Linked DNA regions of Homo sapiens. The protein of the gene in region 1 interacts with the protein of each later gene in a biochemical or structural test. Each region holds a gene or a part of one and is shown on either strand. Other genes may lie near its edges.

Region 1 (16,739 bases):
GTGAGTTTGCATCCCCCTTCCTGATCCACGAGCTGGAGTGATTAGAGCCCTGGAAGGGAATTGTTACTCCCGTGGAGAAGTCCCCTTTTCCTGGCAGTCGTCTGCACTGTACACGCTGGATGCCTCTCTCCATCCACCCCACTCACTCGCTCCTCTCTCACCTCCTCTCTCCCTCTCCTGCATTGATTTTTTTTTTTCCTTTTTAGTTGACTGAAACAAAACAAAACAAAAGGGCCACTGGATGTCTGCCTTCTTGGGGGGTGAGCCAGACAGACTGACAAACAAACAGCCCCAACTGTGTTCGGGGGAGGGTTTCGCCTCCCGTTTTGCCCGGCAGCAGCAGCATGGACGTGTTGGCTAGTTATAGTATATTCCAGGAGCTACAACTTGTCCACGACACCGGCTACTTCTCAGCTTTACCATCCCTGGAGGAGACCTGGCAGCAGGTGAATGATTTAAATTACTTGTGTAAATCGTGTGGTGGCGGCGGAGACGCAGGGGCTGCGTTGGTGTGGGCTCTGGGTTGAAATTTTTGTTTGTTTGTTTGACTTTTTTTTCTTCCTTTTTGGCTGTCTGTTGTTGAAAATGTTTTCTGAAACAGTCATCTGCGCTTACCTCTCCACCCACCCCTAACCTCGTAGAGTGCCGAGCTGAGCAGCCGGTGCGAGCTGCCTGCGTTTCAGTCGCCAACACACATCCCTGCGCACACGTTGTCGGGTTTGCTGTCCCCTATCAGAGACCTGCCGAACTTCTGGGGTTCGGAGGAGCCGGGTGGGAAGGTGGTTTGGGGTGTTAGGAGCGATTGCTGACAGGGACCACGTTCTCGCATGCATGAGCTCTACCCACTTGATACCTGAAATCAGGTTCATCTGTTTCAACTGGTGCTTATGACCATCGGATGGGGGGCGGGGGAGGGTGGGCAGGAGCAAAGCGGAGTGTTTTTCAGTAATTAGCGAGTGTCAATAAAGAATAGGAGCTTGATTTTGAGATTAGAAGGTAGGCAAAAGAGAGAAGAGCCCACTGACAAAAGATACTCAAGGAGGACGGGAAGATGTAGCTGAGGCTGACAATGAATTGTAGGTTTTCCCAGTGTGATCCCTCCAGAAAGAGAACACCCTCTATGCGTGTCCTTGTTTCTCTTTTTTGTTTAGGGTCCTTCTCTAGTTAGGCAGCACAACCTCGGACAAAGGCTGATGTGTGCTTCCATGCCTTTGACTTTGTCTTAGAGGACTAGTTAAGAAACTCCCAGGATGCTGAAGGGCACCGATGCCAAGTTGGCTAGCCGTCCCAGGGAGGATGAAGTGGGGCTGGTGACAAGTTCACTGGGCTTTGTGAAGTGGAATAAAGAAAGTGCTGGTCAGTGGAAAGTGCTGGCTCTGCTGCGGAAACAGTGGTTTTTTTCAGCAGCGATTAGGAGCTGCTGAGGGGACATTCTGCAGGAAAGATGGTGGGTGGGGGCGGGGGGACACGGGTATTTAAAAATTGTACAGTGTGCACCATGGAAAGTCCAAGAAGACAGTCCGGATTTGCACATAGGAAGTGTGAACTTGTACAGTCCGTCCTGGAGAAACCCGCTTGCCCTTGGGGGGAGGGCTGTGAGAGGCTCGGTGTGTGGCTGCTCGTGTAATTTCTTCGCTTAGTGACAGCAGCTTGTTAAGGCTAATGAACGGCTGAATTTCCTCTGCCGGGATCCAAAGCAGGATTTGCCAGCTTGAGGCTGAGATGTAACAGTCTCTGCTTTAGCAAAAGAGGTTTGGCTTTTGGTATAAGGAGCCGAGTGGCAAGGCGGATCCTTTAACTGTACCATTGTTGCTAGTTCACTTCTGGTCAGAGGCTGTGAGTTTTCCTCCAGGTATTGGCGTCTGGTGTCTCTGTGTCCACACATGCATTCTTGTCCAAGGACGCTAGCAGATGCTTGACTCTGTCTCTCTGTAAACACATACACAGTTCACATATTTTTAGAATAAAGTCTTTCTTCAATGCATCCTTTTCCTTATCCTTAACGAGAGTGTGTCTCATGAAGGGTCTCACTGGATCTTTTTCTTCCTTTTATTTCCAATGCTAATTAAACCAAAATCTTCTGAAATAGCCTTCATTTCACACTGTCAGCCCACTGGTATGGAATCGGTTGCATATTAACAACTGTCTAGACAGGTTAGAGAAGGGAATCTGTTGATTTAGTCAGCCTGCCCAAGGCAGCCCTTGTTTGTGACTAACTGTTAAGCAGTGTTAGAAGGAAGAAAGTTGGCTTTATTTGTTAGAACGTTCCCTACTGATGAATCATGCAACTTTGTTTTGGTTCAAGTTTTCAGAGTAGTAAAGCCAGATTTGGAGGAAGGTCTCTTCACAGGAAACCTGCTTTTCTAGATCTGGCTAGACCATCCAGGACAAACTCTAGATCTGCAAAGAAACATCATCGGTTTGACAACTAGAGGATGTATTAGATCTATTGTTTCCTAAGAAGCCATCTCTGCTCTTCCTTCTCCCCTCCTCCCCCTGCTCCTCTGCCTCCTCCCCATTCAGGGAAGCTCTAGTTTAGTTTCTACAGGCAAAGGATTTTTCACCCCTCGGAACCCCCTCATTTTTTGCCTTAACCCTCTCCAACTGCCAGCCACTCTCACCTTAAAACCCTTAGCCAACTTATTCAGCGTCATGCTTATAGCCAATGCTGATGCATAGCTTGTGGGGAAGCACTAATAAACAATATATCACTCCAGTGAGCTTTATGTTCTGGACTCCGTAATCACAACTGCTCTATATAAAGGCGACTAGGACCATAGGTTTACACTGATGACAAAACCTTTAACCTCTAGCCCTTCCTTCTTCCCCCTCCCAAAACCGTCTTGCTGCTTCTGAGTATAAGGGGTGGTGATGGTGATATGCAACTGTTAGTTCCAAATCAACTATCGGATAATGAAATTTTGAGACTCTTTTGCTCAAAACAGCTCAACAGGGTTTCTGCAAAGAACCCCAGACAGGAAGAAGTTTCTTTATGCTCTGGGGTAATCAGATTTTAGAGGTCAAATGAGGAGTAATTATTAGATGTTCTTCTTAAAGTGAACAATGTACCTGGGCTCATGGAGATGAGCAAAATGTGGAGACTCTGATAATCTGACTTGGTTTCTAGAGAAAGAGTGGCTTCGATGATAAACTCAAGAACATTTTTACGTTTGAAAATTGAAGATAAACAATTTGGGGATTTTATTTTAAACTTAGGATATGGGATAATTGTCCTGCTTAATAGTCAGTGAGCCTGTGACAAAGTCACTGACTGTGGCAGGGCTCCCTCTCGTCACGGAGATCCTCGTTTTGACATTGGATTTTCTGGCAATGATGCCTTAGCCACATAGCTCCAAGTCTGAAAATAATCGTTGCTGGTATAATTCTGAAATCCAAATGGACATCACACATTAACAGCTCTCCATTCCTGGGCTCTGACTGCATACTTAAGCACTCGGCCCAAGTAACATCATCTTTCTGCCTGTCATATAACTGTAAATTACACTGTGCTTATGTGGTCTATTATTTTATAGAATTCAGCTGACGCGCAATTCTTAAGACTACCAGCCTTAAGCGCTTTGAAAACTTGTAGGAAAATTTCCAAGAGCTGTCTGAGCAAAAGTAGGAAAAGGTCAAGGGTAGGACAGAAACCAGAGTTTCTTATGGGGTACCACTTGATTATGAGTAAAGGGAAACTCATTCATGACTTTTTTTGCCAATAGAAATCATAATCTTTTTTTTTAGACACACTGCTGACTTGGAAAATAAAAAGAATTTGATACAATGCTTTTATTTTCTTCTTGAATATACAAAGACTTTTAGAACTTTTATATGTTTTATCTCTAGTCTGCTATTTCATGAGTGCAGGTCAAGCAGTGATGATCTAAGTCTTATTTGGACTTAGCTTTGCGTCGTGTCATTGAGGAGCATCGCATGTTTGCTTGAAAAGTCTTATGGAATTATGTTTGTTGTTAATGCTGATTCATAATTGGCAGATGGGGTCAGTTTCAGGCCTCTCTTTGCTCAGAGAAAATTTTCCACTGCTACTGGAAACAAATAAATAAATCATAGAACATTCTTCTCTCCTCCCCCATTCCCCTATTGTTTTAAACTAATGGCATACTTGGCTACTGTAAGGACTAAAGTGTCCCCATAACACTGCAATTTCATCTTGGTTTCAGGCACCCTGAAACACTTTTTATGAGGGCCTTTGGTATAAGGAATCTCTAGGGGAAAACGTACAGAAATGGTTGCATTCCAAGAACAGCCTCATGGTACCAGGGATGGGATTTGGTCTGTGAGCCACATTGCTTCTCCTTTTATGTGAAGATCTTGCCTTTGCACTTCCTTCTGCAGGCCTGGGCTGCCAGGTGCTATATCAGCCAGGAAAACAAAGCAAACTGTAGGGTCTGTCCATCCGTAGGTTTGCCTCAGTCCCCAATTCGCAGATAGCCTTGTCATGAATTAGAATTTCTTGGCAACAGCACCACCCAGGGAAATTTGTAGACACAAAGGAGCCTTGCTAGCCACACTGAAAGGATAAAATAACTGTTTTTTTTTGGTATGTGATTTGTGTGTTCTTCAGTTACTGTAAATCTGTTTCTTTATTTGAAACAGCAACTTGGTAGATGAAATAAAAATATAACTGCCCGTTACCCAGAATTTATCTTTATGAAGATGCAATCACTAAATAGATGTAACTCTACAAATGAAAGCACATGTGACTGCAATCAATCACACACTTAGCCTTTAATAGATTCATTTCCATGTTCCTTTAACAGACACATCTTTGTGTAGATTTAGGGGCTTCAAACATTATCATTCAGTCTACCTGTTTGCAGTTTGGTATTTTAAAGTGGGCAAACATTATAATGCAGTTATTTTTTACTACATCTGTCCTTAGTAGGGGGAAAAGGAGGTCACTATTCTTTGTTCTCCATGAACTTCCCACCCCCACTCCTTACCCTGAGGAGAATGGGATGTTGGGGTCCCATCCATTTAAAAGGCAGAGCAGAAGATGCAAGATGACAGCCTTGCCCTGAAATGATTTATGTATGGGTGTGTCAGAGACCTTAAGCATCCAAATGTGGGCTGCTTCTTTCTGCCAGCCCATTCTAAACATAAATGCCAGTGGGGGCTAATTTGCCTCTCTACTTAAATGGAGATAGTTCAGAGAGGGTCCTAATGGGGCCTTTAATAGCCATTCTTTTATGAATCTTCACATTGTACTCTCTTCAGAGAATTCTTGCGTTTTAACTTTTGGAGTACAAGAAGACATTGCAATCTTCTTTAATTGCTCTCTGTGCCTGTTGAGGAAAGAAGAATACAATTTCCTCTGGCCAGTCCCATCTGGCTCAAGTTGATAGGATAGCTGGTCTGATTCCAGACGGGGTCGGTGGATACCCCTTATCTTTTCATTTTATAGTATTGTGCAATGGGCTTTTAATTATCTTTGCTGGACCCCACGACTGGCAAATGCAGAAAATCGCTCTGTGATTCCAGTTCACTCGATATATCAGTTAGCCTATGTGTTAGAACTGCGATTTGCTGAAAGTTTAGGACAGCTCCCCAACTTAACTTGAATGGTGCCAGAGGGTGAGGGGCAGAGATTTCCTCTGTCCAGTAGTCCCTTTGTTCTCCCAAATCAACTGACTGCTTGCTTAGCATAAACGATTGGGGGTAGGGGGGCGGAATGTTTTAACCCCAAAATGCCGAATCTTACCAAGTACAGTGATTAGAAAACTCAACTACTAATGGTGTTAAAGTTGGTGAAACAAATTATAGTGTCTAATTATTCATGTTACATGTAACATTGACAAGTTAAAAAACACTCCTCTCTGTATACTCATTGTAGAATATACATATCCTTATTCTATCTAAAATTCCCCAAATAAACAAAATGTTGCCATTACTGGGACATGCTTTTACCTAAGATTGTTTGTGATTTTGCTGTGCCCCACCTTGCCCAGATTAGTTCCTGCTAATTGGCAGAATTATTTCTACCACCCTACATCCCTTTAGTTTTCCTTCTCGGGGTATTTGGTGTGACCCTAAGAACTTGGTCCCGTTTAAACGACTCATGTCCATCCCCCCTCCATTCGAGCAGTACCACATGCTTGATATATAAATGTTACAGCTGAGCGTTTGCAGTAGCCTTGAGATCTGAGTCTAGTATCAGCCCAAATGAGGTGCGAGTGACTTCTGATTTCAGGGGGATACCATTCTTCATTGAGCTGGTAGATGGACCTAGTCACACTTTGTGGGATTTTTGTTGTTTATATTCAAGTATAGAAAATATTCCACAGTAAATACTTCATTCCTTAAGCCCTTTTTATGTGCATAATACTGTATTTGGGCAATGCAAAATTGAATTGGATATAGAATCTGCCCTCTAGGAGCTTGACTGTAGTAAGGCAGAGAAAGCATGTTCAAAATTAAGTTAAACAGAATAGAGCATGAGTGCCAGAAAGAAGGAAAGAAAGAAAGAAACATTCAGTTCTGTGTTGGAACACTGACCTGTGCCTATCTGTATTACCCACATAGTTCCAACCTTGTTTATAAAACATACTTGAGATTTACTAAGTTCTGTTGTGAAAAAGCTTTCAGCCAATGTCATGTTGTGGGCTGGATACTTTTAGGGCAGATGAGTATACAATGTGAATACACATATCCATAATGGCCAGGAAACAGTGCCCATGTCTGTGCCATTCGGAAATGATTAGAGGTAATTAAAATAACGTAGAGCCATATGCGATATCTATTTTTGAATGTGGGTGTATTGACATTTCCTGAGGGTCATTTTGAAAGTCAGGTTCTCAGCCTTGTACCAAAGCGAGGAACATAGAATCTCAGAATTTCAAATCTTGAAAGGGTCTTGGTTTCCTCAACTCTAAAATACTGGGTTGAACTAAGTGATTGTTAAAGCCAGATGAGGCATTGCACTCTCCAAGGTCACACAGCTTATTAACACTGATGGTTTCAGGGCCCAGGACTCTCAGATGCCCAGACCAGTTTACTTGCTTTCTGTCACCTGAATATACCTTGACTCACTTCTGATTCTTTTCTCTTTCTTTTTTGCCTTCAAAGGAGGCAAGAAAATTCCCTTTTTACTTTTAAGACTACTGGTTCATGGAATTTTGGGATTGGCTAGGTTCTAGAACAAGTTATCGAATATTTTGGAGAAGGCTTACTTGTGTAATTTGATTCTTTTTCCACTTTTAATGTGTGCTAAATTGGAAAATATACACTGTACCGAAAAAATAGCCCCAGATTATAACTCGAGTCTTATAAAAATTATTGTCATTTAAATAATAACAAATGGAGTGGGAGTATGAAGGGTGTGCAGTGGGGCATATGTGGTAGGGGGTTGGATGGAATATAGAACTAGATGGAAGTAGAAAGCAACAAACGTGAAATTGCTTTGTTTCTGGCACCTCACCAACAAAGAGAGTGCCCGAAACTTTACCAGCAACCCATGTACCAGTTGATGAAAATCTTTTTAAATGTTTTTAAATTCTTGAGAGGGTTGTAATAAGCAGTAGTGAAGAAACTCAACCTCTGAGAGGTTTTTCAAAAAGTCTTTTGAGGTCTGATGGATGAAGTAGGCCTAATTTTTACCATTGTCCCTAATGAGGAAAGGAAAATGGAAGGCTCACTTGACTTTTTTGCCCCAGTTTTTCCCCAGTTACTTTTTGCCCTTCCCTACCTCCTTGAATTGGTAGTTATGATGGTGAAAGTTCTCTCCCAGAATGTGTCTCACAGATCTCTTTCACCTCTAACATCTTAGAGGTTAAAATCTCCTTCCCAGTTCAGGGCTTCTTCATCTCCTCACAGCTATACTCTACATCTCCACCTCCAGATATTTCCCTGGGTTTCAGGCCCTCATTTTTTTCTAACCAGAAATAAGCAACAAGCAAGATGGGCTTTGGGGTTGTTCTACCATCACTTCAGCTGAATATGTCCTAAACCCCTAACTCATCAACTTCTTCCACGGACTGCTTCCTTTTTCCTGGCTTCCCTATTTCTTTTAATAATGTGATTATTCGTCTCATGATCTAGGTTTGACATTCTAGTCATTGTAACTCCTTTCTTTTTCTTGAATCTAATAAAAAATTAGGTGAAAAGATCTAATTAGCGGAAGTCTAAAATTAGTTGAAAAATCCCACTGACTTGGCTTCTGAGGTGCTTTAGCATCAGCCTGTCATGGATGGCACCCTTGGCCATTGCCTTGCCACAATCCCTGTCACCTCCCTGGACTTGCCTTTTTGCCACCATCACCCCAGGTGGCCTGCTTTCAAACTGTTCATGGCTCCCTCTTATACATAGCATGAGGCCAAACTTCCAAGAGTCAGGGTGTTCCAAGACTGGGTCTACACAATATTTGCAAGTTCCCCCCTTTTCACATGTAGTAAATGCCATCCAAATTAAGTGACTATGCTTTTCCTGCTTCTGTCTTTATTTTTGTTGTTTCCTTTAGCCTTTTTCCTCTTCCTCCCTCTCCCCTTCCTGATTTTCTTTGTCCAAGTTCCACCCATTCCTTAACTTTCAAATGGGTGCCAAACTCCCTCCCTTGCTACCAGCCAACTGTAACTGCTATGATTTCCATACTCTTGTGCAGAGCTTTTTACTTCCCCGTGATGCTTTACAGTTTTGAGTTATAATAAAGCTTTTCTTTTTTTTTTTTTTTTTTTTTTACTTTTCTGTTGTGTCATTTTTCTTGTTAAGTTTATGCTTTAAGGAGTTGATGCCTTGCGTATAGTTTTGGTAGTCAACTTTTAATGTATCACCTGCTTCTTAGAAAGCTTTGCACACTGTGGGCACTCGATAGTTATTTGAGGAGCATGTTATGACTATGACTTAAGATTTGACTATGCCTTTTTCAGTGGTTCTCAATCGTGGCTGCACCCCAGACCAATAAAATCAGTATCTCTTTGGGAAGGACCCGGGCATCAGTGTTTGTAAAGCTTTCAGGCAATTCCAGTATGCAGCCAAGGCATTGAGCCATTGGTGTATAGAGGGTTTAATGATATGTCAGAGTTGGGGTTACCTGCTTCTTATATTGAAATATTTAATGACTTGTGTAATTTGGAATCCACACGGACCAGAGGTTTATAGTAAAACAGGATCATGCTGGTGGATGTGCTTCATCTGGCACTTTTGTTAATAGCAGCTGCCCAAGTGTTGTTTCATCCTTCTTGCTTTGCTTTCCCTCACCCTAAAGTGTCTAAGGCAGTCTGTTTGGCTCACATTTCCTGTGACCCATCAGGAATTTGCTTAACCTGGTCAAATTCCATATTTGGAAACTTTGTGGTGTTGGGCTTTAAACTCCAGCCTTGCTGGGTTTCAAACAATTCATTCTCAGTAGGCCCTTGGCCATGATTTTCCACTCACCTCAGCCTGCTCCATGGTTTGAAAGGGCTGGATGCATGCATGTACATCTGTTGGATGATGCTGGAGAGGCATTAGGTAGCAGCTCTCCATTTTCTTACTGACCAACCACAGTGTTTGGAAGTAGACTCTGTTTATAAAGAATTTCAGAGGATCCATCTTTCTAGTAAGAGGAGCAAAAATAAACTGTGGAAGAATTGCTGCTGAGGACATTCCGGCAAGGAGGCTGCCTTCACACCCATAGAAGGCTTAGCTCCTGTGGTAATGACTGTGGGCGTGTGGTGATCTTCACAAAGAAGCCTTAGAAACGCCTCTTTTTCAAACTGTGATGTTTGCAAAATTGTATGTCCTGTAGCTACATCCTTTCATCTGTAAACTGTCTTTGATGGGGGTATGGTTGGCAAGAGAGAACATCAGGAGAGGAGCTCAGAGCTCAGGGTTGAAGGATGCCTTTTGGAAAGCTCAACCCAGCTGTGAAAACGGCAATTAGCCGTGGAGCAATTGCCCTGCAAGGGAGTGCCCACCTGCTCTTGACGCCGTTCTCACATTCACCTTCCAGAGCCGAGTTAGCAGGAATTCAATGGAGTGGTCATAACATTGGTGCTTATTTTTGGAGAGGCGGCAAATTTGCTCAGCATACAAAGGAGTGGAAATAGATTCTTTCCACCCCAACACCCCCTGCCTTTTGAGCTTTTAGCCTTTGTTCATATGGGCACTACAGACCATGTTAGTGAAGTGCAGCTTCTGACTATGGTGTTGAAGGATGTCTTCTGTGAGGCCCTATGCAGAACTGATTCCCCTGAGAGTGATGAGATGCTGCTTAAGGTCAGACCTGAGTCGACTTCATTTCTTCCAAGATTGTTCAGCCCTAATTTGTACATTCTCCTCCCCTTCTCAAGGTTCTTGCTTTTCTTTAATACGGATCAAGAGATGATTTCCTCTGTGATGGGTCTTTTTATGTTTGCATATGAGAATGTAACAAACATCTGTGTTGAGCCTTTGTTCTGAAGGGCTCAGGGTGTTTTGCTCCTGGTCTTTTGTCATTGGCACATTCTTTCTTTAACTAGGGAGCAGACAGATATTACAGAATTTCCCATTCAGGGGTGAGAAAATGGGGCACAGGAAGCTTAAGCAAGTTGTCTTACTGTGGCTGCAAAGCAAATGAGTTGCAAAAAACCATTGGTGGAATAAATTTTCTCTTCCCTCTTTCCACTTGGCTAATCTTCCTGTCATAAAAATAACCATCATAGTACTGTCTCATATGTATCAGACACTTCCTAAAGATGATCTCATTTGAGCACCTGTATCCATCATTTCAATGAATGCTCACAACAGCTCTATGAAATGCGTATTCTATTTATCCCCATTTTACAGATGGAAAAGCTGAGATTTGAGGTATTGAATGGCTTGCTTAAAATCATACAACTTGGAAGTATTTGAGCTGGGATCCAAGCCTCAGCAGGGCCCAGCACTCTTAATTGTTACATCTATACTGACTGCTCTTTAGGTAGGGGACATTAGGGCAGAAGCCAAAGGTCGTGACCTGGCAGTCAGTGGCCCAGTATGGATTCCAGTAGTTCATTGGTCTGTCTTCTTTCTGGGCTTTGGTTTTCTTATCTGTAAAAGGACTGGACTGTGCGAGGCACTTTTAAGGTCACAGTGTTTCATAGTAGACAAATTACATGAAGGATTTGAAATCAAGCAGAGGTGGAACCTTGAGAAAGTCACTTAACATCTCTGAGTCTTGTTTGTCATTTGTGGAGTTCTTAATTCCTGATAAGAATCAGCTCTCTGACCTAGTGTCTGGCACATAACATCCACTCAACAAATGCTCTTTCCTTCCCCATTTTCCTCTCAATAATAATACACAGAGGCACAATGCTCTTTCTCTCAGTGGTGTCTTTCGTGTCTTGAAGATCCCAGTGAGCCTGGAATGCCCAAGAGACAATAAATGATGGAAGGCAGGGGAAAGCGGAATGCTGGGCATTGGATATGGTATACCTTTTATCCATCCACAAGGGAAACTTTCATTAAGTAATTTGTGCTTGGAACTGGGGGAGGACTAGCAATACCCTTTGTGCCCGGAAACTGGGCCTAGTTTGACATCCTTGGAATTTGCTTGGCTTGTTCATGCAAATGTCCAATCTCTTCCCCTTTCTTTCTGTCCAGTCTGACTTATGACTTACGTATCTTATGTTTTTCTAGCATGCAGTTATTTTTTTTAAGAGCCAGAATTAGGCATATATAACATAATACAGTGCCGGTTACTACACCTGCCATTTCTGCCTTACCTGATGACTGAGCTTACTGCAGCTTATGAGAGTGAATCAGGTTTTATGAGATCTATAAATATCTCAGATCGGATTTTTATTTCATTTTCCCCCTTCAAATAAGACATAATGGAAGCACTCACATACATAAGGAATATTCTTTCTGTGATAAAGTAGGGTGTTTTTGAATTGGCCTCTGAAAAGCAATAATTTGATGTGGTTGTTCCTGTTGAGAGTTTTATGGGGGAGGGGAAGAATCATGCATATGCTGCTATAAAACTCAAAAGATTATATCTTCATATTTAAGGTTTAGCCTAGCACCTATGGAGAGATTTATTTCAGAGATGCCAGCCCTGTGTGAAGGCTGCATTCTCTCCTTCTGTAGATTATATATTTGTGTTTTCTTAGCTACAGAGAAACCAGGGAAGGAAAGTCCCATTGGCTAGCAGGAGGTGGGCTCCCCAAAGGAACTTTTCAGTTCTTTGTCTAGTCTCTTTCCAGCTGCCCCAAGGGAGGATGTTCTCATCTTTCTCTCTACTTCATGATTTTCCTGCAAAGATTTTCCACTACTTGATATATCTCACTGAGGTTTTTTTTTCCCCTGGAATTACACTTAAGAAAAAAAAAAAGATTCTTAATAGCCAATACCAGGAATGGAAGTTATTTTTCTCACTTTGCTCTTTGAGAAGCATCTAGAAGGAAACTTGAACACCTAACTTTAAAAAATATATTACAAAATAAACCATGACACAGCCATGGTAAGTGTCTCACTTTACCTCTCTGTAAAATCAGCTCTGTTTGCCATGTCTGACTCAGGGCAGTAAATTTAACTATAAATTTAACTATTGTTTTTGAGAAACAAAATGTCTGACTCTGAACCTTTCATTGTTGTTGTTTTTTCTTTTTTAGTACGACCTCCCTCTATTTCTTCCCCCAGTTCTCACTAGCTTTGTGTTTAACTAGATGATAATTTAATTTGTTCTTAAAAGAATAAACCATGTGAACTGAGTATACCTGAACCAAAGGTGTGCGGAGGACTTTGGGTTAATGTCATTTTTATTTTTGCTGTTGTTTAACATCATCTCGGTGTGTAACATAATCCTAGCACTTTGGCTTTGCTGTATACACTCGCTGCTCTGTGGTTATCATCAAATGATGTGACTTCTCTAGTCCTCAGTTTCCTCATGTGAACAGTGTAGGTAGATTTAGGAACAGTGAGATTATCAGACATACAAACAGTAAGCTCCTAGACTGAACTGGCTTGAAGATGTGTTTTATTTGGCCGGCATGCATATTTCAATTCCCTTTAATTTGAATGCTTTTAGACAGATCGTGCACTCTTCAATTAACCCTGTCCCCACTATTTCCACCTCGCTTAATTTCTGATCTCTGGCCCAGTGAGCATGCATTTGGGCTTGTGACTAGCATCTCTCTAAGGCACCTTCCGCTCCAAAATGTTCTGATTTGGGGACAAGCTTTATTTATCAATCACAGTCTCAAACTGGCTTGCTTTCTGCTCTCACCCAGAACCATTTTCATTTCCTTTTAGATTTCTCTGCCTTGTTGAGTGTCTTTGTTTGGGATTCTATTTTATAAAGCAATTTCCAAATCGCATCTCACTTTTTCCTAGTCATTCAGGTTCTGTTGTAGATCATCGAAATCTGGGATGGAAAAGACCATCTGGTTCACCCCTCCCCCTGCCTGGGCTTAGCAGTTGCTCTAGAGCATGTTCATTCCTTATTGGTATTTGTAACATTTTCCAATTTGGAAACTGACTGATTTTCCTGAGCATGCAGCCTCTTGGTCTAAGTGGGAGTAAAATGAGACAATACCAAACAATTTTTTTTTCCCATCAGACATCCCTCATTAACAAAAAAGCCTGCTATTGTCACAGTTTCTTTTGCCACTCCCAGAGACCCAGCTGGTCAGTTGTAGTAAAAACTCCGTGTGTGTGTGTGTGTGTGTGTGTGTGTGTGTGTGTGTAAGAAAAACATGTAACCAGTTCTTAGTTTTCTTAGTCTGACATAGAAGCATGTTGTAGAGAATTCCATTAACCGCTGTAACTGCTTATTTTTTTGTGGAAGTGGATTTTATATGACTTGTTTCACTGAGGAAGTGATGCTTTTTGTGTGAAAAAGTCCAGGGTATTATAATAAAGTACTTTCCTGAGAATCAAGTAATGTGTTTTCTTCCTACCCTTGGCACTCAAATACTGCCAGCAAGGCACTTGGCCTTCCTTTTCTAATGCTTTTAGGATGCTATTCTACATTAGGGGTGTTTTTAAAAAGTGTTTTCTTTTATATTGGCTTTCTTACATTACTAAGGATATCATTTAGGTTGACCAGATGGTGATTTTTAGGGTCATTCTTTTCCTGATTAAAAAAAGCCATTTAAAAAAATTACTTGCTGCTGGGTGTTCCTCCATTTTTCCAATCTCCGATTACTTTTTTTTCTTTTTAAAAAATTTTGAGTGCCAAATAAAGGCCCAAGATTATTACTATTTTGTGTGTGTGTGTGTGTGTGTGTGTGTGTAAAATTTTTCAAAACCAATGACTATTTGACTGTGTGAATTAGCTACTATTAAAATATTTCTGAAAAATATTTCTAAAAAGGAAGAGAGAGAAAAAGAAAGGGAAAGGCAGACATTATGTGGTCATAGAATGTCCTTGCACAGTTTTCCCTGCAAAAGAGAACCAGAATGCAAACCAGTTGTCCTCCTACCCAAGATGCGCCTGCCTTTTTCCTCCAGCTTTTGCACCCAGGAGCTCTTTTTTATGCCCCATATTTATAGAGACTAGGACTTCACAAATACCAGAACTTGAGGAGTATTAGACATCTCTTTCCGATCCCTCCCCCCTGCCCTCCTCAATTTGCGGATAACTGGCCTGAGCTTCAGAGATCATTATTTAAGCCCAAGCCAGTATTGGACCCTCAAGAATTGTGAGCCTCCTTGCAATATTTTAAACATATTCACATGTTAACACAAGGCATGGTGCAACATGGCTGAGGGAACTGCTTCTCGAAGGGTGGGCTGAGTTCCACAGGGCTTCATAAGCGCAGTGTTGATAACACAGAATTACCTCGGGAGGCAGTTTTATTCCCATTGCTGTTTTCTTTCAGTCCTTTTAACTCAAGGAGACAGTCAGCTTTGAGGTGCCATGTCTTTAACGCCTCTCTAAGGCTTGGTAAACTCTCCTCACCCCTCCTTTTCACCCTCCCTCCCTCCCTTCCTTTCTTCCTTTTTTTTTTTTTTTTTTTAATAAAGAGAACAGGTCTTACACTCAGAGCTTTTGACAGGCAAACCTCCAGTTGAAAGTTTGTAATATTGTTTTGATTTTGTTGTTTTTAATTTTATGATTATCTTCTATTAATGAACATTTGCAGGAAAAGAATTTAAAACACATGCAGCCTTAATATATAATGCCTTAGTGAGGCAAGTAAAAATGAAAACAATAGGGGAATGATTGTACAGATGGAATGCTGATTTGGTAAAAATCCGTGAAGGTGAAATGAAATTGAAGTTTGAAAAATACCGGTGTCGTGGAAAATTCAAGGGATTTGGCATCAGAAAACCTGGAATTTAGTCCTGACTTTATCAGTATAAAACAAAGCAAATTATTAAATTATATTTCCCATATGAAGTGCAGGGCTTATGATAGTAGGATTGCTCTAATCAAATGCTATATGGATGTGAGAGTGCTTTGTAAACTGTTACATGCTGTACGGTGTAATTGTTTTCTATTCTGCAGTGGGGGAGGCTTTTGTTTCAAGCCTTAAACTATCGCTTCTTGTTGGCTTTCTTCCTCTTTATGATTTCTATTCAGTTTTCCGAGCAGGAACTTAGTGACTTTTTATTTGTTCCAGTGGGGCTGTTACTTGAACCTTAATTGTGGTACTTTGAAAAATTTCCTACTGGTTGTCTAAATGGGGACGTAAAACTTTGTAATTTATTTCGTGTGTATTCATGTGTGTTTGCTTTAAGCTAAATTTTGCAAAGTAAACTTAGTCTGTGGAATACAGTATTGTATAACTATTGGATAGATATAATATGCTTCTCTTTAGTTTTTAAAATACATTCTTAACAATTGTATTTTACCACATTCATGAAACAATCATGTGCATTTGTATATGTCTGTATGTGTGTGTGGTTGTGGGGGAGGGTGGTAGTGGTATTCAGGGATGAAGGAAGTCTGGGTTTTGGGTAAAACTGAGAATTCTGGGGACTATTTGCTTCTGAAAGTAGACATCTGTGTGGCTACAGTGACTCATTAACAATACACTGTCACATGTTGTTAGATAATAAGAAGACGGGGACTTACCTGGATAGGAAGTCCTGGACTTACCTATATGTCTACGTCCATGGAAGCCTCCTAGTTTATGGCACACTGGGGTCAGAATGACAGAGCAGTATGTTGCTCTTGGAGATGCAGACTCTTGTCCTAGCCCAGGATAAAGTTGGTAGAAGGTTACTGCAGCTTGGAAGGAAGGTTGAACTCAGACCCGAGGACCACATTGACTGTGTTGGCCAAGCCCCTGTGAACTCTTCAAATGAATATGTTGAGATTTACATCCTGCTTAAGACAGGTGCCATACTGACAAGGATTGGGGAGCCCAGGTGTCAGGTACAAAGCTGCACTCTCATACTGCCTTACCTAGAGTACTGGTTGAAATGAAGGCATATCTGCAGCTCTGTCTGTGAGAGGCTCTCCCGATGTCTTCCTGTTGCCAAAACTGTGGCAGGAGTGCCTTATCAACAGTGGACAGCACCACCGCTGAGCAGAGTGTGAGCACAGGAGTCAGCCGGGATGGATCATCAGAGATTTCTTGGACTACTAACAGTGCTGCCAGTAGAGCAGATATGGGCAAGCCTGGGATATGGGCCCAGGAGGCCCCTTTCTCTATGTTAGTCTGGCACCCCTGCTGAACCTCAGCAGTGATAAGTGCTAGAAAAATGTATGGCTAGTCTAGAAGACAAAGGCAGAGCCTCCTGGAGAGAGAGTGACAGCGCTGAGTGGGGGTGTTGCTTTTAACAGATTTTTAATTTTTTCTCCTCAGAAAATTATTGAAGATCATCTCCAAAAA
Region 2 (16,739 bases), on another chromosome or scaffold:
GTTTGGGGGAACTAAGAAGATACTGGTCTGCTAGAGTGAGTATACTGAGAGCAAGTGGTAAGGATTGGAAGAAGATAAGATTGGAACATCTGGTGTTTTGAGATTAGATTGGAAATATTTTATCCTCTGAACCAGGATTCCTTGTAGGCCGATTGTTTTGTTTTGCTTGGCCATGTATATTGTACTTCTTAAAAACAATCTGAAAATTTCAAATGATGGAGAATAATATGAAGTGAAAAGTAAAAGTTTTTTTCTGCTTTCCTAAACCTCTGTTATCACTCCTCAAAGGTTACCGGTTAATATTTTGTTGTCTTCTTTCATAAAATGTTGTATGCAGACACAGTATATTTGTCTTTTTTATCATACTTTTTAAAAAAAGTTTTAGGGGGTAATCTTTTTAATTTTTAAAATTATGTTGTTGTTAGAATCATACTTTAGATGTAGTCTGTGTTTTGCTTTTTTCACTTAACACTATAAATCAGGAGACTGTTTTAAAAAGATAACTGGCTTCAGTATAGAGTATAGCATGGTAAGCATTTATTCAATAAATTACTTATGGCAGGCATAGTGTCTGCTAAGCTTTTCCTCGACCCTGAGGATACAGTGATGGGTATCATTTAGGAAGCCATTTCCGTAGTGCACGTGAATGTTAATGGAGTCCCAAAAGGTAATGGGAATGGATGTAAGAACTGTATTGAGATAAAATTGATAAAAATAGCCCATCAATTGTCTGTGGGAAATGAGAAATCAGAATATATTTAGGATGATTTCAAGGTTTACAATTCAGGAATTCAGTAAAACACATTAGGGAAATAGGTGTGTTTATTTGTATATATCTGTGTATCTTTGTTTTGGGGAGGGGGAGGGTTCGTGATATGAAGGAGTTCATTTTGAACATAGTGTTTTTGAAGGATGTTCAAGTTATTGAGGTGAAAATTTCTGATAGGCAGAGGAAATAAAGTTCAGAGCTCAGGAGAGGTAAGAAGTAGAGTTGGAAATTTTTTCTTTTTTTGCTTTTCTTTGTGTGTGTGTGTGTGTGTGTGTGTGTGTGTGTGTGTGTATTTGTAATAGCTAAATCCTTGGGAATGAGTACAATTGCCCAGGGAGAAGAGGGCTCGAGGATAAATTAGCAAAGGAGACTGAGCAGTGGTCATAGAGGAACGACAAGAATCGAGAATATCACTTTCGGAGCCAAAGGATGAGAGGGTTTCAAAGGAGTGGTCAGCGGTGTCCCATAATACAAATGGGTCAGATGGGGAAGCACTGGAAAGAGGCTATTGGATTTGTTGACTACATGTTCAATGTAACCTTAGAGGTTTCAGGAGCTATCATAAGATGGAAAGATTCATTTGGAGGAGGCAGGGCAGTAAACAAGAAAAGGTGGGCAGTGGTTAATCAGAAGCAGGTGAGTTTATTTATAGCTTTTCTTTTAGCTTGGGCAGTTCTGAGTATGAACTTTATTTTTCCGGAGGCCTCTTAGCCAAAATGTGATAGACAACATAGGAGTAAGCTTCTGAGAAGTTAAGACACATGTCACAAATTCAGGGTAGCATAGCCCATATACCAGTCCACACACATTGATTTCTCTGGTTTCTCAGGCCGTACTGGTTAGAAACAACAGAAGAGGGGTGTGTGTGTGTGTGTGTGTGTGTGTGTGTGTGTGTGTGTGTGTGTGATGAGAGGCAAGCATGCTGACAGCCTCAAGAAGTAAATAGCACATAACCTTTCAGTGAGGGAAGAAGAGACCAGAACACACACACACAGGCAGAAGAAATGATGAAGATTTACTTAGCCTAGTAGAGTGTCCATTTACTGCTGAGGCAAAAAAAACCTCAGGAACTGCATATACTTAAAGTACCCTCTGCCCACCAGGTGCCTTTCTCCTAGTGAGTTCTTTCCTACTTTTTGCAGTGTTAATTCCTGCTCTCCCTTCAGTTATGGGCTCAATTGTCTTTCCCTCAGGAGAACCATTAGTGACTCAGGCCCCTTTGTTATATGAGGCTTCACAACTGTGTTTACTGTCTTTGCAGCAGTTATCTCCGTGTGCAATTCTGAGCTCATTTGCGTGGTTATTTAATTGTGTATCTCCACTTAACTCTGGGCCGTTTGTTTACAATGGGCCCAGAGTACATAAGTGGTATTCAAAATAAATGTGCCAAGGCATATTTAAATGAATCTGAATGCACCTCTTTTCAGCTGTCATCCTGTGCCTCCTCCATCTACAAAGCCATTAATATAAAAGAGACCAATATTTCCTATAAACTTCCCTATATCTGTACCAACATTATTAAAATATTCCTAGACAATTTGACAATCAAGGTGTTAACTCCACATGCTGATCAATAGAACAGAAAACCATCTGGGTGCTCATGCAACCCATTTTCTCCCTGCTTTCCCTCTCCATTCCTCCTCTCTCCCCTCTTTTCTTTCTCTTTTCATCCTTCTCTAAAGCTTATTTTAAAAACAAAATATGCATGTGATGCAAAAGTGAAATACCATGTCAATATTCACAAGAGAGGGAGAAGGGATGTTTCATTCTTTCTCTGAAGTTGTATATAAGCTTGTGTTTATTTTTTAGGAGTTCTCTAGTTTTTATCAGATTCACAAAGGGGTCCATGACTAATCTAATCTCTGACTTTATAGGTGAGAGAATGAAGAATTTTAAAGATTGATGCAAGTTTATAGAAATAATTTGGGGCAGAATCAAGATTAGAACCCAAGAATCTCTTCTCCTTTCCACTATGTTAGGGTCAGTCCTAGAAAGAACCACAAGCTCCTGGAGCTGGAAGAGGTTTTGATTCCTCATTTAATGATCACACGTTACATATGAAGAAATTGATACTTGGAGAAATTGAGTGAATAAGCTAAGAAGCAACAGTACAAATTAAAGCACAATACTCATGATTCCTGGATTTTTGCTCTTTCTAAGTAATGCATATTTATATTATCTTCAGAAGTTGATTATCCACTCATCTTGAGAAAAAGATGTTCTGTGCTTTTTGCACAGAACAAATTAATATTTTTATTAATTTGAATGTGATGTGTACCATTATGATACCTCTGCTTGTGTGTGTTTGAAAATAAACATTGTTTAACCTGGGTTTTAGTAGGGGGTGTGTTTTTTTAGTCTACTTCGTTCTGTTTGCTTTTCAGGTACTTTGAACTCAAGTAAACAAAAGGGAAGATTTTCTCGTTGATACTGGAGACTGCACAACAATGGGGCCACGAAAGAAAAGTGTGAAAACATGTATCATGAATAATGAAATTCCAGAAGAAATGACAGCAGATGAAACAAAGGACTATATGAATCAACTTTCACATGAAGTACTTTGCCATATTTTTAGGTAAGATTGTGTTTGGTTGGCTTACCTGCCTGGAATGGATAAGAGCAAACCCTGAGGCAGTGCTGTCTAATGTGGTAGCTACCAGCTACATGCAGCATTTACATTTCAATTAAGTAAAAATGTAAAATTTAGTTCGTCAGTTGCACTGGCTACATTTCAAGTGCTTAGTAGCCATATGTGGCTAGTGGACACGGTGTATAGGACAACAGAGTATAGACAAAATATTTCTTTTGTCACATATAGTTCTGTTGGACAGCCTTTCTCTAGACTGTTAACATTTCTAGGCTTCTTGGGATTTTTATTGGCTAATAGATTTGTTGACTTTTGTTACTGCATTATAACAGTACTGTGTGTTTACACTGCACAATATAAGGCAGTGTTTCTGACTTTTTCTGACTACAACCCACAGTGAGAAACATAACATGTAAGTGATTGTAACTAAGTTTTCTGAGATAATACCCATCATAACTAAATGCAGTGCATACATTAAAGTTGTTTTATGATGAACACAACACAAAAAGACTTCTAAAAAAATTATATTTTTACCCAAACCGCATTATAACAACTGTTTTTTTTTTTTTAAAGGGAAAGCTGTCATTCTAGTTTCCACTGCTCTCTTCTTTCAATTATTGTCCTTATTTATATAATTCAAATAAGCAAATTCTAACATACTTTGTCTCTGAAATTAGAGACCTGAGTTTGAATCCTGGGTCTATTATTTGCTAGCTCTAGACTAATGATAGACATAATAGCAATATTATTAGGATTCAGTGAGATAATGCATTAAACACTTAGCAAACTGAAGCATAAATGCTTGGTAAATGTTAATGGTTATTCTGCTTTTTTTCATATTGCTACATGGTCTTCATAATTTTTTTTTTACTGCTTACTATTCTATGGAATGTATAAATAACATGGTACTTATCATTTCCCTTGTCTGACATCTAGATAGTTTTCAGTTTTTCTGTTTTCTGCAATTATGGTTGCAATAAACTTCTCTAAGCATCTGGATTTTCCATTATTTTAGGTAGTTTACCTATGAAAAATTTCCATATATGAAGTTCTTAGGAATGTTTTGAATTTCTACAAATGAATATTTGCAGATTATGAAGTTTTAAAATAGCAATAACAGTTATTTTAGGAGATCCTAAGCACTGTATTTTTTTTTCTAATATAAATGTGTATGTCATTATTTCCTGCAGTTCGTTATTCTGTGACACATTGTAGTTTTTGCTAGTTCAGTTCTGTCTGGGATTAGAAGACCAAATTAAAATGATAGATTTTTTTTTTACAGAACAAAATGATATTAACGTTCATCTGGCAGAAAAAAAGTCTGTCAGAATAGCCAAAAATTTTCAGAAAAAGAGTCTTGCAACTACCAGATGTTCAATTACATTCTAAAATGTTTTGGAAAAGAAAGCTGGACAGTTGGGTAAAGGAGACAAACATAGGCTCCATTCAAATACATGTGGAGATCTAGTTTATGACAAGGTTGTATTCACATCAGTGAGGAAAAGTTGGGTGGACTATTCAGCAATGATGTCTCAACCTACAAACCATTTGGAGAAAAAAATAAAAGCACATTTTTATCTCATGTCTTACAGCTAAATTCAAAATGGGTCAGTGAATTAAACAAATCCTTCAAAATTCTTTAAGAACACATAGGTAAAATTGCATCTAGGGATAAAGTTGGATAATGCTAGGATATATTGTGAAAAAATTGGACAATATATAATATGTATATATTTTTGAGACAGAGTCTCACTCTGGCTGGAGTGCAGGGTATGACCATGGCTCACTGCAACCTTGAACTCCTGGGCTTAAGCAATCCTTTTGCCTTAGGGGCGCACACCACTGCGCTTGGCTAATTTTTTCATTTTTTGGTAGAGGCAGGATCTTGATTTGTTGGCTAGATTGGTCTTAACTTCTGGCCTCAAGCAATCCTCCCATTTTGGCCTCCCAAAGTGCTGGAATTACATGCATACACCACCACACCTGGCCATTGGACCATAATCTAAATTGAAAATAGATCATATAACATTGTGCAGTTCAAACAGAATATTCAAATGGAAAGGGTAGAATCAAGTCAATATATAATGGTAGTTACAGTGGAGAAAACAGCATTTGACAGCACGTAGAAAGAACCATGAACTTAGTTCTTGAACTTCATGTGTTTATTCTAAAAACAAACAATTTTGTTTCATTTTTTAGTCTTCTAAAATTTTGATTTGAGGATTCATTGTGGTGGTGTAGTAACTACATAGCATGTCTTCATAAAACAAGAAAAACTATGGCCTTCCTTAAAAGAAACCTAATCTTTGCTGTCCCTGCTATGCTCTCTTTTCTAAAGTGTTATATTTGATCTGTCTTCTGAACTCTAGTCCTTTGACTATATAACTATGAAGAAAAAATATGCTACTTCTTAGGGAAAATATGATGTAAAATAATCTTGATTTTGTGATTATTGGTCTGTTTGTATTTAAAGGGAGTAGAATTTTAACCTAGGCAAATACATTGGATAACAATATTTAGGAGAAAAATATTACAGTGGCAAAATTTATTTAGAAAGCAAATTTAATGTTTTTCATTGTTTATAAAATGTGTTGTCATGTTTCTGAAAAATTCTGCTTATAATCTAAGTTATAGAGTAAATTAAGTTATGGCTAGCAGTGATGATTTATTTTGTATAATATTTGATTTAAATCATTTTAAAGGGGTAAGAAGAGGGACGAGAAGTAGAAAAAATAAATGGATCTGCTAAATATTCAACAGGTATATGTGGACTTTTCTTTTAGAATTAGCAGTGTTGTTAAGAGTTAGTGTCAGACAAAACTGTGTTTGCCATTCCTGACCCTTTCTCCCTCTTACCTAGCCATGTGACATTTTGCAGGTTTAATTCTTCTGAGCTAATTTCAGCACTTATAAAATGGAGTAATAATAGTGTATACTATGTCAGTGAAGTGCCAGCAGATAACAGAAAATACACTTACCTGGAATTTGAAGATAATTTAATGAAGGGACTATTTACAGAGATGTAGATGGAGTTTAGGGAACAAGTAAGGGATGATGAAGAATTTGTCTAGGGGATTAGCAGCAGTAGAAAGGCAGCATTGCCACCTGGAGCCCTCCAGCTGGTGCATCTCATTGGCTAAAGTTAACAGCCAGAGAGGGGTAGGGAACACAGCAGGTCAGAGAGGGGGAGATAAAGGACTGGGAGAGAGTTGTATGCCAAACAGGAACCAGCTAGTTACCTCTTAAGGTTGTTGTGAAACAATGAGTAGAATGTGACGCAATACAGGTTCAGTAGGTAAAGGTAGCTTTAACTTTTCAAAACATTTAATTAATCTAGGCATGTGTGGAGGGGTCTTAAGAGAAAAATAGACCTTTCAGAATATATAACAGAACAAAAGTCAGGATTAATTGAAAGTTTCAGGAAAAGATAATAAAGAAGAATGGAAAAGAGGAAGTTGTAATTCACATGAGGTGTCTTAATACTTTACGCAATACTTTTATCAGTGTATGTGACCTTAAAGGTTAAAAAAAAAAAAAAAATGGGAAAAGAAATTGTGTACTATATGACTAGTATACATATTTGTTGATGGAGAAGATAGTAGAGTTTGCAGGAGCAGGATGGTGGAGTTGAGAGGGAGCAGAATGTCCCTGCAGGAGTAGATTCTGTAAAAGATACGAAATAATATTGTGCATGTTCAAATTGAGTAATTCTCTCTGATCTTTCTCAGGTTCCTTTCTCATCACATCTTGAAAAGCACTGTTTTTTTTTTTTTCTTCTTTTCTTTGTTTTTCTGGTTTGTTTTTAGATTTTCTTTGTCCATGAAAACTCAAAAGAAGAAAGGCAGGTTTTATCAAATGACCTGTGGAGGGAGCTCAATACCTTATTTGGATACTCAACTATTTGCTGACTTACCTTTGTAGTAAAAAGCTGTATGACCGTATGTGTGGTAGCTTTAAATCTCTGTCTTAAGATCTTATTTCATTTGAGTGGTAGGAGATTGGAAGAAGGAAAAAAAAATAACTTACTGGTGAGAAGTAATACTTATCCACTTGATAAATACGAGTTTCTTTCTCTCACAAAGGTACCTCCCTCTGCAGGATATCATGTGTATGGAATGTCTTTCCCGGAAGCTAAAGGAAGCAGTGACCCTATATCTGCGAGTTGTGAGAGTTGTAGATCTCTGTGCAGGGCGGTGGTGGGAATACATGCCAAGTGGTAAGTGGATTTAGTCTGTGAAGTACAGTAGTGTCCTACTGGAAAGTAGTAACAATGGTTTCATAAAAAGTTACTTGTTGTCTTGAGAAAGGCAATCTAAGTCACCTTGTAGGCTGGCAAGATTTTGTCTAAATTATTTATGTTGGGTTTTAGGTTGTAAAATGCGTTTTACCTGAGGCTTTATTGTTTTAATAGTCTGCTCTTTTCATTTCCTGTCCTTAAGTAACTATATCAGCCTGTTCCACACATCTGTGATTGGAGAACATGAGCCTTTGGTTAATTGAGTATATGTGTATCACATTAGACACTGTGTGTCCTTTACTGTCTGATGCATGTTTTCCGGTGAATGGTAACAGTTTTCATCATAGATTTCCTCTGCAACTAAACTGCACCCTTTAGTTAAATAAATACTTGCCATTTTTGTAGAATAGGCCACAGAACTCCAATTTCTTTAGAAGACCTATAGTAGGTCTTGGAGATTCTCGAATAAGCCACTGACTGACCTTACAGGTGAAGAACTCAGTAGCTTCCTAACCACAGCAAATTGTTCCCAGTTGAAGAGACCACCTGAAAAGAAAGTTAATGGCTTTAGCTAAGCAAAGCATACTTGAAAGAGTTAAAATAAAAGGCAATTAAGGCTTCTTTTCACTTAACGCCAATCCATTAATTGGTAAAATTTAGTTACTATTGTTTTGCAATTATGAATCTGTCTTTTAAAGTCATCCTTTTTCTATGATGTCCAGATTATGAGACTTCGAAAATGGGATAAGGCTGAGAGGGGAACCAAAAAATAAAAATAAAAAAAAAAGCCTTAATAGAAGTGAAGGGCTGGAGGAGATAATTGTCTTGTTCTGTTCTATAGAACAGAACAGATTAGCTCTGGAATACTGGAATTGTGCAGGTGGATGCTGCATCCTTTCAAGAGAGTCATCAAATCAGTTGGTAACTCTTATCAGCTGGCCATAGTAGTTATCAATATATACTTTCTTATAAAGAACATTGCAAACACCTGAGGCTGGAGCTTATTAATAGGTTTGTGGGAGGCAAACCACGGTTACTTTCAGATATTTAATAAAAGCCATTCTAAGGGCAAAAGCCTCATCTCATCTTGTTTCAGAATGATCCTGTATGTCAGGAAAGAAAAAAAATTAGGGCAGTGTGAAAATGATTGTCTTATTCCTTATATTAGATTTACTTTTGCAAAGGTTAGGCCAGCTGGAATTCTGAAGACGGGATTAACACAGTATATAAAGACAGGATGGCAGAACTCCCATGTGATATAGTCTTACCATTAACATCACTACCACTTACCAATTAGAGAAGAATTTGACTGCATGTTGCTGACTTTTAGGCTATGATAAATAACCTGTGAGCCCAAGGCTTCCCATCTTTGCAATGAATGTAAAAGAGAGTTGAAGCAAACAGTCTCTAGCCTAGGATAAGATCACACTAACCTTGCTCACTAATGCCACCTTGGCCTATTATCTGGCATTTAACTCAGATCCTTTATATAATAGTACTTTATGGTTTACGTATATGATCTCTTTGGATTCTCACTCCATCTCTGTAAAGAAGATAGAACTTTCCCCATTTCTCTCGTGGGAGGCAACATGTATGACAAAAGAGGATAAACATTGCAGGGGTTACACTTGGTTTTAGATTCCAGCACTGCCATTTGGAAGCTCTTAAACTCTCTCAACTTCATTTTTTATGCTTGTATATGGGGTGATAACCTTTCTGATTTGGTTGTGAGAATAAATGAAAAAAAATGATTAACACATTGAATCGTTCAGTCATTAAAAGTTACTATACAAGAAAGTAATAAGAACTGTTATTATAATTAGAGACCAAGTAATCTCTGGTCTCTCCTTACTCTTCACTAAAGTTAGCATGTCTGGACTTTACATGTTAAATGAGATAACTTAAAAATAAAACAACTTTCAAAAAAGTATGTAAGACTTAAATATTTGGGGCCTACTTTTTGTTCTTGACAGTTAATGTTTTTCTTTGTCATTAATAAGCAGACAGTTGGCTTTCTGACCACTTTCATTAAAAATAAAAAAGCCCTTGTAACAGATTAAAATAGGATCTATATGAGACTTGTCTCCCCACTTACTTAACCAACAGCTCCTGCTGTGGAAGTAACCTGCCTCTCTCTGTTCCCATCTTGTTGATTCCTACTATGGTCTCCTGGATAGATAGCTTCCTATCAACAGCATACCCTGAGATTGGATCACTCTGGTTCTCTTAGCTAACTTGCATCTGTCTTTTTCAAAAGAATTAATTGTCTAAAATGGCGGGGGAGTAATAGTTAAACATATGACAGAGTATCAGAGTAATTATTAGAAAATGGATAGAATAATTTGAGATAGGAATTAGGTCAGAACTGTGAGCTTCCTAACGATGAGGATCATATCTTATTTATATTTTTAGTTATGTGTTCTATAGAGTCCTGAAGGTTTTACAGACGAGAGTACCCATGGGGGAGGAGGAGGGTGGTGGTGATCAGGTGGGTGGTCCCACTCCATCCACCAAATAGGTCCAAGTTATCTGGGTTAAAAGTGTGTTCTTTGTTGAAGATTTCTATGCCTTAAAAGCAACAAAAACCAAAAAGTCAATAATAAAAGCCTCCTCCATAAAGTATTAACTTAGATTAAGTGGAGTTTCTGACTCATTTCCTCTGTTACTAAAGGAGTATATTTTCTGTTATGTTTATTCAGCTTTAGTGTTAGCTTTACGGAAATTTGAAGAGGAAGTCTTTTTTAACTTTTGGTAAAAATCACGAGTGCCTAGTAAATGTTAATGAACAGAAAGATGAACCTGGCTCTAAATACTTCTGAACTTCTCAGGCTTTACAGATGCCAGTTTTCTAACACTATTAAAGAAGATGCCAGATGTTGAACAGCTATATGGCCTTCACCCTCGATACCTTGAGAGGCGAAGAGTAAGGGGCCATGAGGCTTTTAGCATTCCAGGAGTCCTAGAAGCTTTGCAGGCATGCCCAAACTTAGTGGTGAGTGCACCTGGTTGAACATTTTGGCATCAACTGTTTATGAAATAATAGACCAAAGAATGATAGACGTGTTCACTCACATGCAAATCTCATCTGTCACAAACTTTTAAGTTCCATTGTGTACTTAGCATCTTGTGGTACATAAAGCTTTGGATGCTAAACTAAAGTCTTTTCTTATGCTTGCTTTGGCATTATTTTCTAGGGTGTGGAAACTTCTCATTTGGAGTTGGTAGAATCCATTTGGACATATATGCCCCATGTTCATATTTTGGGGAAATTTCGTAATCGTAATGGAGCTTTTCCAATTCCTCCTGAAAATAAACTGAAAATTCCTATAGGAGCCAAAATTCAAACTTTACATTTAGTTGGTGAGTACATGTTTCTTGGGTCACTTGTAACTCCTTGAAATGCCATAAAATGTGAATATTCACTGAAAAAGAATAATGAGAATTTTAGAGATGGCTTTGTTGATTGATGATTGCAAAATAAATGTTTGCAAGATCTGTATAAAAATTCCGATTTCCCATTAAAGATCCACTGGTGTGAGGGAAATACTGCTTCACAAGTGTACATTCTCCATCTGAATATTCTTTGAAATTATATACCAGTAACTTCAACTTAAGTAAAAAGTGTAAATATTTTCTCAAATTTGTCACCTTTGGCTTAGGCCACTGAAAGGAATTCGGGGGTCCCTGTTAATATAGCTGGCCTTTAATATTTGTTTACTACTTTATTCTGTATATATACACACACATACACAGAGAGAGAGAGAGTATATGTGTTTTAAGCATTATTCTAGGTATTGGGGATGGTCTAAAGAAGTGGAAATTTCTGAAACTCAGGTGGTACAGGGAGAGCATCAGGAATGATAAGGAGTAGGTCTTAAATAAGACTTAGATACACAATTATGGGAGAAGAGTAAAGATTTCTAGCAACCCTTCATTTATAAGATCAGGGAGTGATATCTAGTTTGAAATTGGATTTTTAGATGTAAAAGGATTCTGTAATATCTGGAATTTATAATATAAGCTCCTTAAGGTCAAAGACTTATTTCCATATCTTTATATTTTCTACAATGCCTGTCACAGTTCATTGCAAATATAAGTACAGGGTAAGTTTTATTAAAATGCATTAATTTATGGGAATCATTTAACAGTTTAACACTGTATTATGGTGATGCAGAGGTGTGGTAAATTAATAAAAATAAACATTACCAGGAGAATGGGCAGTTATGTCCTTTGTTTATAGAGTTTGTTTGAGACAGAAAGTGGTTTGGGCCTGGGGTATACTGTCTTCTCTGCATCTGTCTCACCCTTCTTCCTTGGGTTTCCTAATCAGTACAATCAGTACTACCATCTTCATAGTATTACAATATATGCTAAATTTAACCTTTGTGACTTCTGCATCTTACATCTCAATCTGTACCTCACTTCTGCTTTTTGTCCTTTTGTCTCATCCTTAATTTTACTTCCCATTTGTTGCTATACAATGTGTGTGCATAGTTCAAACTAAATTTAACTCTGCTATTTTGAGAGGAACAAGTTAAGGGGTAATCCTTGTAGGTTACAATAAGAACATTTGGTAGAATTTAGCCTTTATAAACAACTGACCATTCAAGTACTGCAATTTTACATTCTCTAGTTATTCTTGCTAGCAGAGCTCCTATTGTCTCAAATTTAAAAATTGCATTAAACAGTTTTGCCAACTACTGTTTGTTAAATGCCATCATCCTGGATCCTTGGATTTCTTTAATAAATTTGTGTCCCTTCCTTGGCTTTTATCTTCTTTCATCCATATTTCCTGTATTTTTTCACCTCACGCTACACCTCCCTTCTTCTGGTCATGGTCCTCTGTGGATATGATTCCTAGTATTAAGCCACTCCTGGATCCCATGCATCAAATTACCTTTACCAATTTGAAATTCTAAAATAAATGACTGGCAGGTTTCTGCTTTTCTCAGAGCCATGCTGGCTGGCTTCTCCCACACATTTACAAATTCTTAAGATTCATATATTTATAGAAAACAGCTTTTAAAGTTCTGTGTTTGGCTATCTTCCAGATATCTATTTGCATATTTAAACCCATCTAGCTGACTTTGCTCTGAGAAATATAGTTCTCCTACTAGGGGGCAGTGGATGTTGGTAGTCAAATAGTAAATTTGTGTGTTCCATCTCCATCGTTATAGTTTTGCTTTCAGTAATCCATTTTCACTTTACCTCTTCTGGGAAAACGTATCCTAGAAGAGTTGTAAGATTATGAGAAAGACTTACATGTCTAAGACATAGAAATACTTTTTAAACTCTATCTTCCCATTGGCCTTTCCTAAAAAAGTTAAGTCAGTTTATGGTTTACGTAAACTGTTCTTTGTAAGCCTGTTTTAAATAAGGCAAACTTGATAGATTTTGTATAATTTGTTCGGATAAAAATCCTTGAAGGTTAAGCTGTTAATATGAAAAATAGACTCTTGAACTTATAAGCAAAATATAGTATATTTTTGTGATTTTTTTCTTGTTTGTTCTTTTTTATATTTGTGTTTTAGGGGTGAATGTTCCTGAAATTCCTTGTATCCCAATGCTAAGGCACCTTTATATGAAGTGGGTAAGACTCACTAAACCACAGCCATTTAAAGACTTCCTTTGTATCAGCTTAAGAACTTTCGTCATGAGGAACTGTGCAGGTAATGGTACACAATTATGGTGGAATTAAACATAAGTTATTCTAAAAATATCCTGAAGCAAACTCTAGCTACATTTGTAAATACAATTATATTATGCTATTACTATTTATGTCTTATAACATATTCATCTTGTGAAGATAAATGTACTTTTTGTTTTAAAGACATTAGAAAGATGATTTGTGTTTGACCTCAGCAAAAAAAAAAAAACAAAACTCAGAATATCTCTATTTTTTACGGGTACTTTTTACTTTTCCTAGGATTGTTTTATTAAATTTCAGTCTTCTTACTTTGTTTCTGGTCTCCGAATCATTCTGCATGTAAATAGTTGGCTTCCTTAATCTCCCTTAAACATAGCTTTTATGGTATTATCCTTCTAAACAGAAATCTTTAGTGTCCCTGTTGCCCTAGAGCAAGCTTGTTCAACCCACGGTCCACTGGCCACAGCCCACATGATGCCCAATACAAATTCTTAAACTTTCTTAAAACATTATGAGATTTATGCATAGGCTTTTTCTTCTTCTTCTTCTTTTTCTTTCCTGCTCATCAGCTATCTTTAATATCAAGACAATTTTTCCTCTTCCAATGTGGCCCAAGGCAATTTTTCCTCTTCCAGTGTGGCCCAGTGATGTCAAAATATTGGACACCGCTGCACTAGAGCATTAAGTGGGAACTACTCTGCTTAAGGTCATGATAACCAGGACCCCTCTTGATAACCTTATTCTGACACCTTTCCAAGATATATCTTCTTTTATCATCACATTTGACTATTCATTGTTCCCTGGTCAGCCATACAGCTTTCCATCTCAATGTCTTCTCTTATGCTGTATTATTGTTTCGTTATCCTGAGATGTGCACTTTCTTCCTCTGTTTTTGTATGCGTTCTTCAGGTTCTGCCTTTTCCAACTTACTTTTCTCCTCTTTCTTTTTCTTTTTCATGGAGTATGGCAGATCTTATTTTTACACTTGATGCAGTCTGCCTTCTTATCCTTCTATAATTACTTATGTTAGTTCTAGCTCCATGTCAACTGCAGGTTTTTTGATGGACAGGACCATATCTTTTGTGATCTTCTATAGTAGCTAATGCAACACTGGTCATAGAGATGATTAAATGATTGAGCTGTTTACTTGAGTGAAGGATCAAATTTTTATCTTGACTTTTTCCCATTAGTTAGTTTGAGTTCAAAACTATTGAGCCTTTAGAGAATTTACGGAATACTACATATCTCTACAGTGTTACTGAAAAACCTTTATGCTGAGTAAGTGTATGGTTAATAGGCTAACACTTTCATTTGTAACAAGAACCTGATTTCAGAGAGCCAATTTGGCTGTCATTTTAAGACTTAGAGTTTATAAGTTATACATGTCTTTCACTGATTTGAAATTCATTTTAAGGCACTTTACATTGTTCTATCAAAGATTTTTTTTTTTTTCCAGGACCCACAAATTCCTTGAAATATGTCCCTTTAGTAACAGGCTTAGCCTCTGCCCGAAACTTGGAACACTTAGAAATGGTTCGAGTTCCTTTCCTTGGAGGTCTTATCCAACATGTTGTTGAAGACAGTTGGAGATCAGGTATTCATTTTCTTTAATTACTAAATATTTTTTAAAAATCAACTTAAAATAATCATTAAGCTTTTATTTAACTTCCCTGGCAAGTCTTTAAAAAGAAAATGCTCGTCAGTAACTGCTTTCTTTGTTGTATTTGATGGACAGTAAGTAACCATGAGCATAGCTAGTATTCATTTTCTTTTGGTGCACATTAAACTTTCTTAAAATAGACAGTAGAGTGATAAGACATGTTTTCTGGCTTGTTTTGACTTTTATGTAGCTAATAATACCTCCTCTTATGTATGGAATCTTTCTTAGAAATGTTAACAGGGATTTCTAGCGTTCTTTGGTGATGTTTTACAACTTGTACAGCCGAGGCTTCCAAAAAAAATTTAGGCATTAATAATGTTAATCTCTATCACATAATACTTTATAATATAAAAAATACTTTTATACATATTACTTGGATATTGATTTACCCATCAGATGATGATATTTAAAAGAAAAAAGTTGTTCTGTGTATACTTAACTATAGATAAATAATACGTAACAGAATGTGCTTTGTGTTAAACATCTCATTGCAGAAAAAAAATAGTGGTTTAGCAAAATGGATGATTAATAGTTGGAAACCAAAAACTTAACTTTGGCTCTCTAAAATAAAATGGAAAGTCATCAAGTACCATTGTTAACAAACAGACATTATAGTTAATACTGTTGAAATATAATGAAGAGTAAACACTACATTTCTAGACATTTTGTCAGTCAAGTGTGGTATAAGTGTACTTTATTACATTTAGCCAGTGGGATGAAACAACCCCTTAAAACCAACAGTATTTTGATTGATGGCGATAGTTAACAAGATAAAAGTCAAAAACGAAAAGAAGGCTACTGGTGTATTCACTAGAGAGAAGACCTGTAGAGAGGTGCTAAAAGCTGAGTTTGTATAAAGGTCCTAAAAGAAAAACAGAGACTTTTCTTCTCTAATCAGTTTTTAAGGGTGACCCTGCCTTGTATTTTACTCAAGAAGTCAACATACCTCACACAAAAATTTATTCTAGATGGGTCATAGATTCAGATGAGAACAATTTTGAAATGAAATTTAAAAAAATAACTTAGAAGAATGTCTTGTTGACCTTGAGTACACAAAGACATCTTAAACAGGACACCAAAAAGCATTTACCATAAAGAAAATATTGATAAATTGTACCAAATTAAAATTAAAATTTTTTTTTTTTTGTCCATCAAAAGGCATGATTGAGAGAGTGAAAAACCGGCCGGGCGCAGTGGCCCACGCCTGTAATCCCAGCACTTTGGGAGGCCGAGGCGGGCGGATCATGAGGTCAGCAGATCGAGACCATCCTGGCTAACGTGGTGAAACCCCGTCTCTACTTAAAAATACAAAAAATTAGCCCGTCGTGGTGGCGGGCACCTGTAGTCCCAGCTACTCGGGAGGCTGAGGCAGGAGAATGGCGTGAACCTGGGAGGCAGAGCATGCAGTGAGCCTAGATCGCACCACTGCACTCCAGCCTGGGTGAGAGAGTGAGACTCTGTCTCAAAAAAAAAAGAGAGAGAGAGAGTGAAAAACCAAGCTACAGAATGGGAGAAGCTGTTTGCAATACAGATACTGGGTATTGGGAAGATATAAAGGACTCCTGGAATGAATAAGAAAAAGGCAGGCAACTCAATAGAAAAAATGGGAGAAGACTTGAATAGAAAAGTTTGCACACAAGAAGCCAATAAACATGAAAAAACGATAAAAGTTTACTAATCGTTAGGGAAATGCAAATTGAAACTACAGTGTGATATTCAAGCACTAAAATGACTATGCCTACTCGTGACTAATATGAAAAAGATAAAAACAGTAATGTTGGCTAGGATGTGAAGCAACAGGACCTTTCATACACTGATGGTCAGAATATAAATTCATAC

The links.
Region 2: the proteins of KLF7 (region 1) and FBXO38 form a complex in vitro, tested with the Homo sapiens proteins (one study listed by BioGRID).

Annotation. Positions count from the first base shown.
Region 1 is NC_000002.12:207,149,174-207,165,912, reverse strand, and holds part of KLF7 (Krueppel-like factor 7), read left to right. Parts: 5' UTR 1-344; coding exon 345-446; intron 447-16,712; exon of another isoform or gene 16,713-16,739. UniProt on the Homo sapiens protein: Transcriptional factor. Plays a critical role in neuronal morphogenesis and survival of sensory neurons. Represses the corneal epithelium differentiation.
Region 2 is NC_000005.10:148,391,561-148,408,299, forward strand, and holds part of FBXO38 (F-box only protein 38), read left to right. Parts: intron 1-3,153; 5' UTR 3,154-3,216; coding exon 3,217-3,344; intron 3,345-7,438; coding exon 7,439-7,572; intron 7,573-10,421; coding exon 10,422-10,585; intron 10,586-10,787; coding exon 10,788-10,953; intron 10,954-13,124; coding exon 13,125-13,262; intron 13,263-14,696; coding exon 14,697-14,834; intron 14,835-16,739. UniProt on the Homo sapiens protein: Substrate recognition component of a SCF (SKP1-CUL1-F-box protein) E3 ubiquitin-protein ligase complex which mediates the ubiquitination and subsequent proteasomal degradation of PDCD1/PD-1, thereby regulating T-cells-mediated immunity.